Linked DNA regions of Homo sapiens. The protein of the gene in region 2 interacts with the protein of the main gene of each other region in a pairwise test. Each region holds a gene or a part of one and is shown on either strand. Other genes may lie near its edges.

Region 1 (4,992 bases), on a different chromosome or scaffold from region 2:
CATCTCCTCCTTCCCCCATGGTTGAGTGAATACTAGAAACATGAATCCTTTTTGTTCAGACCAGATGTTCTTTAAGAGTTCTTTTCTAGCTGTATGATCCATGATCTTTAAGGTGTCAAGTATTTGAACCATTTGTGAGTACAGTGCTTCTTACTTTGCTGGGCACATTTCTGTGTACTCTTATTATAAACTACACCTCGTTGGCATTTTGGAGCAATGTAAACACTTAATTAACAGTCACCTTAGGCCAGAAGCAGGAGAAGCAAAGATAGTTGATGGCATATTTCAGAAGATAGGTCCAGACTCTCAAGTATTGAATTGTGAGACTTCATTTTATGTTTATTAAGTTATCCTTTGACTTTTCTTTCCCATTGATTTTCTTTCTGTTTATGCCAGGTGAAATGAGAGGCTTCATACAGTTCTGGCTTGTATGCTCTGTGATTTTTGTAGAAGGTGAACATTGGGATGGAAGAGGGGAAAATCACTTTTCATGTTTATATATGCATATATATGGCTTTTCCCCTTTTTGAGTAAATTTGTACATGTCACACAACTGCACTTGGAGCACAGGGAATTTGTACTTTTGTGTATTGTGGGTAAGGAACAATGACATGTTTCGGGGCTTGTGTCATAGCTCCGTCATGTCTCATTATTTCAAGTCTGGGTTTAAAGATCTTGAGGCAAATTTCTCTGCTGATGGACTTGGTCTGAAGTAAACTGGATTAGTAAAATGAACAAGCATAGATTATTTTATTTTATTCCCACCACCAGTCTCCCAGAGGCTGCTTTCAGCCACAACGCATATGAACAACCTGCAGCCATTCTGCTTGTGAAGTTCTTAGCATAGATACTTTTAAAATGACTTATTAAGGTCAATCTCTAGTAACTGGAAGTAGATACCAGCATTGACTACTTAAAATTGACCCAGGTTTAATAGAGTGGCTACCTGCATAATTTTAACATGTTAAACAACTTAATAGTGTTTAGCAAAGCTTATTTTTAATTTGGCTATGTTTCATTTTATGGTAGACCAAGGTACATAGATTTATAGAGTGCTTTCAGTGTTTTGCTGTTGCTGTTTAGGTTAAAATGCAAGAGTAAACAAGCAAGAAGGAATAAAAGTTTTAATTTCAGTTTTTTTAATAAAGCAATATACATTTACTGAACAAAATTGGGAAAGTGCTGGAAAGTATAACTAAGAAAACAAATTCTGCAGTCCTGTAATTCGTATTTGTATTAGTTGAGATATTGACAGGTATAACATTGTACTATGCTCTTTTCACTTTGCATTACAACCGAACATCGTCCTATGGCAAAGAAAGGAATATTAAAGTAATTTATTAGAAGTGGATTATAAAAGTATTGAGCAAAACCCACCACTGTTGACTGTAATGATGTGAGGTGGAGTTGTCTTTATCTCCAGTAGCAGTGTTTGTGCTAACTTCTGAATATACTTTTAGTGCACAAAATACCTCTTCACAAATTGAAGGAGAATTTGAGAAAGATTGAGATGCCATCTTCTTTTACTCAATTTGGACCTATCCTTTCTTCATCCTACCCTCAGTATCTGATTTCTGTTGTCTAAGTAGGAGGGGTTTTACTTGCAGCAGACTGAGTTCTTGTGTTACCTCACCTAATGTTAAAAGTTAAGGAAGGTGGGGCATCAGCAAGGAAGGGAAAGATGTTTGTGGTGGAGAATGGGAAACCCTTGATTGTAGGGTATTTTTTATTATTTCTGATAGTTACATAATCCATTGGACTTTTTATTCATTTGAACGTTGGACATTTACTCTCTTTGTGATTATAACGCTACCGTGAACATTCTGCATAAAATTCAGAATCTGAATTCTAAATTTTTGTTTTTAGGAAGGATCGAGATCGAGACCGGGATCGTGAAGATCGGTCTAAAGATCGAGACCGAGAACGTGATAGAGGAGATAGAGAGCGAGAGAGGGAGAAAGAAAAGGAGAAGGAGTTGCGAGCTTCAACAAATGCTATGCTTATCAGTGCTGGATTACCACCTTTGAAAGCTTCCCATTCAGCTCACTCAACCCACTCAGCACATTCAACGCATTCAACACATTCTGCTCATTCAACGCATGCCGGACATGCAGGTCACACGTCACTTCCACAGTGCATTAATCCGTTCACCAACTTACCCCATACTCCTCGATACTATGATATTCTAAAGAAACGTCTTCAGCTCCCTGTTTGGGAATACAAGGATAGGTTTACAGATATTCTGGTTAGACATCAGTCCTTTGTACTGGTTGGTGAGACTGGGTCTGGTAAAACAACACAGGTGAGTTATTGTATACCATGGTACATATTTCATTTATGTTTAAGTTTACCAAATGTTGCATATTTGATTCTGGTGGTCATTTCCCTTGTCTGTCCTATAGAACATCTTGAAGAATAGCTGATTTGATGTTTAATTGGCACTCTGAATTTCAGAGTGGAAATCCTATAGAGAATACCTCTCCCCTGAATCTAGGGGAAAATAGTGGTGCTCGCTTTTCAAATTTTGTTACCTTATGTATGGCAGAGGTATTTTGACTCCCGGACAGTACAGATTTAGGGACCCACAGTTTGTTTTCTGGTACTTGGGTGGAGAAATCACTGGGGTAGATTTTTGTCGTTTGTATTTAATATGGTATTTTGAACCATGCAAAAAATGAAATGCCAAAGTAATATAAAGTCTATACCGGTGACTTTTGTCCATCTAGTCGTCCTCCCTCCCATAGAACTAAACACTGTTACTAGTGTGTTATTTGTAATATAGCTAGGATATTTTTTAAACATGGATGGGCTATTATTAACTAGACCCCTGTTGATAGACATTTAGACTGTTTCCCATGGTTGTTTTGCATGGGTCAAGTGTTTCTGTAGGAAGCAGAAATTGCTGGGTCAGAAGATCATTTGTAATTGTGATACAGAAAGCTGGATAGCCTTCCAGAGGGAGCGTATCAATTTACCTTTCCATGAGCATGTAGGAGAACACGTGGGAAACTATTAAAACGTGAATTTTTACAAATCCAATAGGTGAAAAATTGCATTCTAATGTACTTTTTAATTTGCATTTTCTTGCTGTGGGTGAGAAGTAACTGTCTTTATACACTTAAGCCTGAACCATCAATTAAAAATTTCTGGTTTCAAAAGTAGCAGTCCCTGATCATTGTAGAAACTTTGAAAAATTCAGGAAAGTATTGAAGTGAATTACCTGTCTTACCATGCAGAGATTGAACATACCGCATACACAATTTATCTTTTTCTAAAGTTACATGTGCATGGAGACATTTTGAAGGTACTGTAGCAACCAAAATAGGAAGCTTTTATTATAGACTGAGCCTTAGTACCATTCTTCTTTTCTTTTCTTTTTTTTTTTTTTAATTTTTGTGTTGTTGTTGAGACAGTCTTTCACCCATGCTGGAGTGCAGTGGTATGAACACAGCGTCAACCTCCTGAGCTGAAGCGATCCTCCTGCCTCAGCCTCCCAAGTAGCTGGGATCACAGGCATATGCCACCAGTGCCTGGCTAATTTTTAAATAAAATTTTTGTAGAGTTGAGGTTTTGAACTCCTGAGCTAAAGCAATCCTCCTGCCTTAGCCTTGCCAATTTTTCTTTTTTAATGAAGGAAAACTTAGAATTGATGTTAGGGTATTCAAAAATCACCTTACGGAAATTTTAAGAATTTTCAAACTACAAGAAAGACTGTAACTCTGAACTTACTATTTAATTGATATTTGGGTAAAGCCAGACACTGTATACTTTACATGTATTAGCTCATTTACGTTTTTCTATAACCCTGCAGGAAGATATTCATCACCACTTTACAGATGAGCAAAATGAGGTTTAAGTTTATGAGAAACTTAGGTTTAGTGGATTGTCCTGGGTTACATGGATTATGGATTTTGGTGGGCTCAATATTTAAAACTTTGTACCTTTTGTCTTTATATCTAAAGTTTTATATTTCATACTGCTATTCTGTGGTCTGATTATGGGTAGCCTCATTTCAGAGATGAGTTTATTAATGGTTAGTGTAGAAGGAGGTCAGGTCAACTCAAGATGAGGTTTGTGATTATTTGGATTAATATTTAACTTTTAGAGGGGTAATTAAGATACTTGGATACTGAGGATTGCAGCACATCTGGGGGATTTGAAGGGAAACCAAACAGTTTAAAAAGTGAATTTCATTCAAATGTTTCCTAGCATGCTCTTATTAAACTTTGACTCAAACCATTAAAGCCAGTCTTTTTTTGGTGATTTGTTCTTGTCAGAAAAATTCTCTAAACAAAATCTAAAGTAATGACTTTAACTTTTTTTTTTTTTTTTTTTTTTTGAGACAAAGTCTCGCTCTGTCACCCAAGCTGGAGTGCAGTGGTATGATCTTGGCTTTCTGCAACCTCCTCCTCCTGGGTTCAAGTGATTCTCCTGCCTCAGCCTCCTGAGTAGCTGGGACTACAAGCGCGCACCACCATGCCTGGCTATTTTTTTTTTTTTTTTGTATTTTTAATAGAGACAGGGTTTCACCCTGTTGGCCAGGCTGGTCTCTAAATCCTGACCTCAAGTTATTGGCCTGTCTGGGCCTCCCAAAGTGCTGGGATTACAGGCCCAAGCCACTGCACCGGGCCATGACTTTAGCTTTTGACAGACCTACAATAAAGACATTTCACATTGCTGCTTAGTAGACACATAACTGCACATGAGGAAGGAATTGAAGCTAGGTCAACCAAAGGGACAGTGTGAGCAAGGACGCATGTTGAGCTAAGGGAATGCAGGTATGCTCTGGCTAGAATACAGAGGGTTTGGGAAGGTGGAGGTGGGGCAGGTGAGACTGGAACTGTAAGTTGAGCCTTAATATATCTTGTATAGACTGGAAGCCATCAGAGCTCTTGAATTGAAGAGGAATGATGAGGATTTTTTTTTAAAAAAACTCCTGTCTAGTGAACATATTGATGATACACCATGTAAGAGCTCATAACAAAAGTTTCG
Region 2 (4,992 bases):
AGACGTAACAAGACTGGCAAAATGTTGGGAATCATTGAAGCTAGGTGATGGGTATGAGTTGATTTTGTTCATTTTGTGTTTTTTTTGTTTTATTGAATGTCTCAAAACTTACAATTGTTTTAAAAAGGCTTCAAAGAGACAAAAAGATGTGCCTGGAAGCATCAGCGTATTAGGTTGGAACTGACGTTTTAATTATTGTGGTAGGGGCCTACGCAGGAGGGAAAGGGTGACCTGGAAGGCCTGGAAAAAATCAGGTTTCATTTCTTACCTGTACATATGCGCTATGTGAAAAATTACTCTGAATTGGGACTTGGAATTCAGTTATGGCTGCTTAGAGAATCCTTCAGTTGCTTGCCATGGTTATTGTTAAGGAAAGCTCTACAAAGTAGTGGGGCATACAAATTAGGTATGTACACCAGGTGGAGAGCAAGGTGATTGGAAAGGAGAGGTGAGTTTTGAGCTGCACTTGACTTGCTGAAGGCCCAAGGAGAACTGGGATTGTTCAAGGTCTTCTCGATGCAGGTAGAAATATAATGCCTAGTCCTTGTTCAGGTGCCCTGTGGCTCCAATGTCACAATCATCTGTTTCATTTCTTCCTTCTCAGGCAAATGAAGATGTGACACAGATTGTGGAGATTCTCCATTCTGGACCTAGTAAATGGAACTGGCTTACCCGGCGTCTGGTAGAATTTACCTCTTCAGGGAGTGTCCTCCTCTTTGTTACTAAAAAAGCCAATGCTGAAGAGCTAGCGAATAACCTTAAACAGGAGGGTCATAATCTTGGGCTGCTCCATGGGGATATGGATCAGAGTGAGAGAAACAAGGTCATTTCAGACTTTAAGAAAAAGGACATCCCAGTCCTGGTGGCCACAGATGTTGCAGGTAGAGTATGAATTTTTCAACAACATTAAGTTCCTAGGCTATAAGGGTACTCTGTCTTACTACATAAGACCTATAATATCTGAGCAGGCTGATGGAAAGACTGTTGGCCTGGCTGGCCATCCCCTCCCAAACCCCCAAGGAAGCAGCAGTTCAGCACAGGGATCACAGTCTGGAGCTCTAGATACCACTTTTCACTTAGTATTTCTCTCTAATCAAAGAATCCCTGCAGCTAGAAGTCACTCTGGGAAAAAAGGCAGTGAATGCCCTTATTGTATGTCTGAATATAGTAGATACCTTACCCTTACATTGATCTACTATACACAGCTTAGTTGGGCAACTTAACTCAGGATGAGAACAGTTTTTGGAATATAATTTCTGGATTTGTTCTGTCAAGTTTTAATAACTACCCTTAAACACTGATATTTTTTCCTAGAAAGGAGAGAACTTCTCAGCTTCATGACACATTTTAAATATATATTCCCAGTGCAAGAGAAGAGGGCATGGCAGATTACTGATGCAAAAGATAAAAGTCCCAGTCGGGCACGGTGGCTCACACCTGTAATCCCAGCATTTTGGGAGGTGGAGGCGGGCGGATCACCTGAGGTCAGGAGATCGAGACCATCCTGGCCAACATAGTGAAACCCCGTCTCTACTAAAAATACAAAAATTAGCTGGGTGTGGTGGCGCGTGCCTATAATCCCAGCTACTTGGAAAGCTGAGGCAGGAGAATTGCTTGAACCAGGGAGTCGGAGGTTGCAGTGAGCCGAGATCATGGCACTGCACTCCCGTCTGGCAACAGAGCAAGACTCCGTCTCTAAAAAATAAAAGTCCCTTACACTAGAAGGCCTAACATCATAGAATCTGTGGTGGTGACTTAACATGCCTGTATCTCAGCTCACCAAACCCATGCGCTTTGCCTAGATAAAGGAAATGTGGCTTATTAGCACTAGCATTTCTGGTTACTTTGATCTTCTGACTACAGATGAAGAATAAAAGAATTTGGTTGCTTTTTATTTCAGCCCGTGGTCTGGACATTCCTTCAATTAAGACTGTCATTAACTATGATGTGGCACGAGACATTGATACCCACACGCATAGGATTGGCCGCACAGGAAGAGCGGGTGAGAAAGGTGTGGCCTATACCCTACTCACTCCCAAGGACAGCAATTTTGCTGGTGACCTGGTCCGGAACTTGGAAGGAGCCAATCAACACGTTTCTAAGGAACTCCTAGATCTGGCAATGCAGGTGAGGGGCTGGGCACACTTTCAATTGCTCCTGGTTATAAGACCAAGACATTTTAGCAGTCCTGGAACAGATAACATAAAAACTTGACAAGAAAGTTGGGTGGCTAGGAGGATGTGGGGCTTATGAGGTACAGATAGGAATTGTGAGATACTAAAATTCATCTAGTCTTATCTGGTCTTCTTCTTTCAACAGCATCTGTTTTGAAAAGCTATTCCTTTGTGCTAAAATCTGTCGCTGTAATTTCTACCCCATAGCACACTTAGGAGTAAATTTAATCTCAAAGATGGTTACTATTCTCCTTACTGCTCTTCCCCCACAAAATTTTTCTTCTGGGAGGCTAAAAATGTGTGATGCCTTTAAAACAATATGTGTATAGTATAGTGCCCCCCCACCTTTTTTTTTTGAGACAGAATCTCACTCTATCGCCCAGGCTGCAGTGCAATGGCACGATCTCGGCTCACTGCAACCTCTGCCTCCTGGGTTCAAGCAATTCTCCTGCCTTAGCCTCCCAAGCAGTTGTGATTACAGGCGCCCACCACCACGCCTGGCCAATTTTTGTAATTTTAGTAGAGATGGGGTTTTGCCATGTTGGTCGGGCTGGTCTCGAACTCCTGACCTCAGGTGATCCGCCCGCCTCGGCCTCAACCTCCCAAAGTGCTAGGATTACAGGCGTGAGCCACCGTGCCCAGCCTGTATGGTGCCTCTTAACTGTTCCTTGCAGAGATCTCAGACCTCTGACCACACTGATTGCCCTCTTCCAGGTGTGCTCCAATCTAAAGCTAAGTGAGGCATTCTAACAAATCAAACCTGGAGTCATCTGAATCCATGCTGTCCCCAAATTACAAATGGGTTCGGAACACTTTCTGAGAGCAGAAACTGTTAAGAGTTTGTCAAATGCCTAGGCCAGCTCACACAACTGGTACAACCCAGCTGCAATGTGGCAGTGCCCAAGTTTCTGGTCCTAGGAGTAAAGGACCTGCACTGCAGGAGAGAAGAGAATAATGTTTCCTCCCCTGCTCCTGAGCACAGAGAGCTAGTCCTAAATAAACTTTTAAAACAGGACACATTTTGACTTTGGCATTTTCTTCCATTTCTTTTTGTACCTCAGGCTTTCTGTGCTCAGGACTTTGTCCAAGCCTGCTGCCCTACCTCTCAAGCACTTTATTTTGCTGGTAATATGTGATTGTCAGATAAAACTTTAACCTTCCCAGAGACATTTGCTTTTTTTTTTTTTTTTTTTTTTTCTTTTTTCTGAGATGGAGTCACACTCTATCACCCAGGCTGGAGTGCAGTGGCGCAGTCTCAGCTCACTGCAACCTCTGCGTCTCCGGTTCAAACAGTTCTCCTGCCTCAGCCTCCCAAGCAGCTGGGATTAGAGGCATGTGCCACCATGCCTGGCTAATTTTTGTATTTTTAGTAGGGACGGGGTTTCACCATGTTGGTCAGGCTGGTCTTGACTCCTGGCCTCAAGTGATCCGCCCACCTCGGCCTCCAGAGTGCTGGGATTCATAGGCGTGAGCCACCGCCCTGCATTCTTAAGAGAATGTGAGTAAATATGTTGAGTGGCAATGGTCAAGTTCAATGAAAACTTTTACGCTCTGCGGGTAAATAAAATTTTCAGTTGTGTGGCTACCATCCTTTCTGGGAGTCTGTCCCTATAGTCAGTTCTGATAAGCCTCACTTCACATAGCATTTTTCCTTTGCTTCTGAACATACCAGTTGTTTAAGTTCCAAATGTTTACGTCCAATAATACATGGTTTGAGAAATAAAATATAAGCTCATTTTCCTCAAGGAAGTTAGAAGTAGCCAAAGTTACTCCTCTGGGTTTGAAGCTTACCTGAACAACTTCCCTTCCAGGAGAGCCTTGAGGGAGGGAGCACTGTAGGAAGCCTTAGATAAGGATCTCAGCCACTTTTCAAATTTGGTGGATTATGCTACCAAAGAGAAACCAATCTGTGGTTCCTGTGAAAATTCCTCCCTTAGCGTAGTGCTGGCTGAAAATTAAGCAAAAGTTCCCCCTTCCCACTTAATTTCCTCTTTGTCCTCGTTCTCTTCTTCTGTTCTTTTCTCCCTCCCTTGACTTAACCTTGAATTTTGTTCAATGCAGAATGCCTGGTTTCGGAAATCTCGATTCAAAGGAGGGAAAGGAAAAAAGCTGAACATTGGTGGAGGAGGCCTAGGCTACAGGGAGCGGCCTGGCCTGGGCTCTGAGAACATGGTGAGTCTAGACTACTACAGTAGTGCCTTTATAGTTGGTCTCATGTCCTGAAAGTCATTAGGAATATTCTCATCTACCCAGGAAAGCCTCAGTGAGTTTAAAGCCCTGTCTAGAAGGGAATTTGTATTTAATCTGATTTGAGTCAATGCAGTGCTCATTCTTATGGTAACTTTCTATTGAAGAAGCATCTTTGTGTACTTGGTTGACTAGGCTTGCTCAGGAAATTATTCTAGATTAGCAGTGATCTCACACTGTGGTCCCTGGACCAGCAGCACATGCAAACTCATCCCCAACCCCAGACCTTGTGAATCAGAAACTCTGGAGTTGGGGCCCAGCAGTCTGGTTTTATAAGCCCTTCAACACTGGCCTAAAGCCTGCTGCTAGGTAAATGTTGCCAAAGGGTCACTGTAAAGTCTAGCCATATCTTGTCATTAAACTCAGGAACGGATCAGGAATTTCCAAGTCGGGAGCTAGTTTTTCTCACAAACCAGGTAACAAATGTACCCTTTTGGTGGCCTTTCTTAACTGCCTGTTTTCTGTCACCTTGATTCCAAGCCAGGGAAGAAAGCTGCCAGTATACTTTTCTGGAGCATTAAACTTGGCATCTTTGTAATTACATACTCTGTTCCCACATTATAATAATAAT

The links. The genes of interacting proteins can lie anywhere in the genome.
Region 1: the proteins of DDX42 (region 2) and DHX15 interact in a two-hybrid assay, tested with the Homo sapiens proteins (one large-scale study listed by BioGRID and IntAct).

What each region holds. Positions count from the first base shown.
Region 1 is NC_000004.12:24,573,553-24,578,544, reverse strand, and holds part of DHX15 (ATP-dependent RNA helicase DHX15), read left to right. Parts: intron 1-1,866; coding exon 1,867-2,302; intron 2,303-4,992.
Region 2 is NC_000017.11:63,811,328-63,816,319, forward strand, and holds part of DDX42 (ATP-dependent RNA helicase DDX42), read left to right. Parts: intron 1-604; coding exon 605-881; intron 882-1,900; coding exon 1,901-2,127; intron 2,128-4,235; coding exon 4,236-4,346; intron 4,347-4,992. UniProt on the Homo sapiens protein: ATP-dependent RNA helicase that binds to partially double-stranded RNAs (dsRNAs) in order to unwind RNA secondary structures. Unwinding is promoted in the presence of single-strand binding proteins.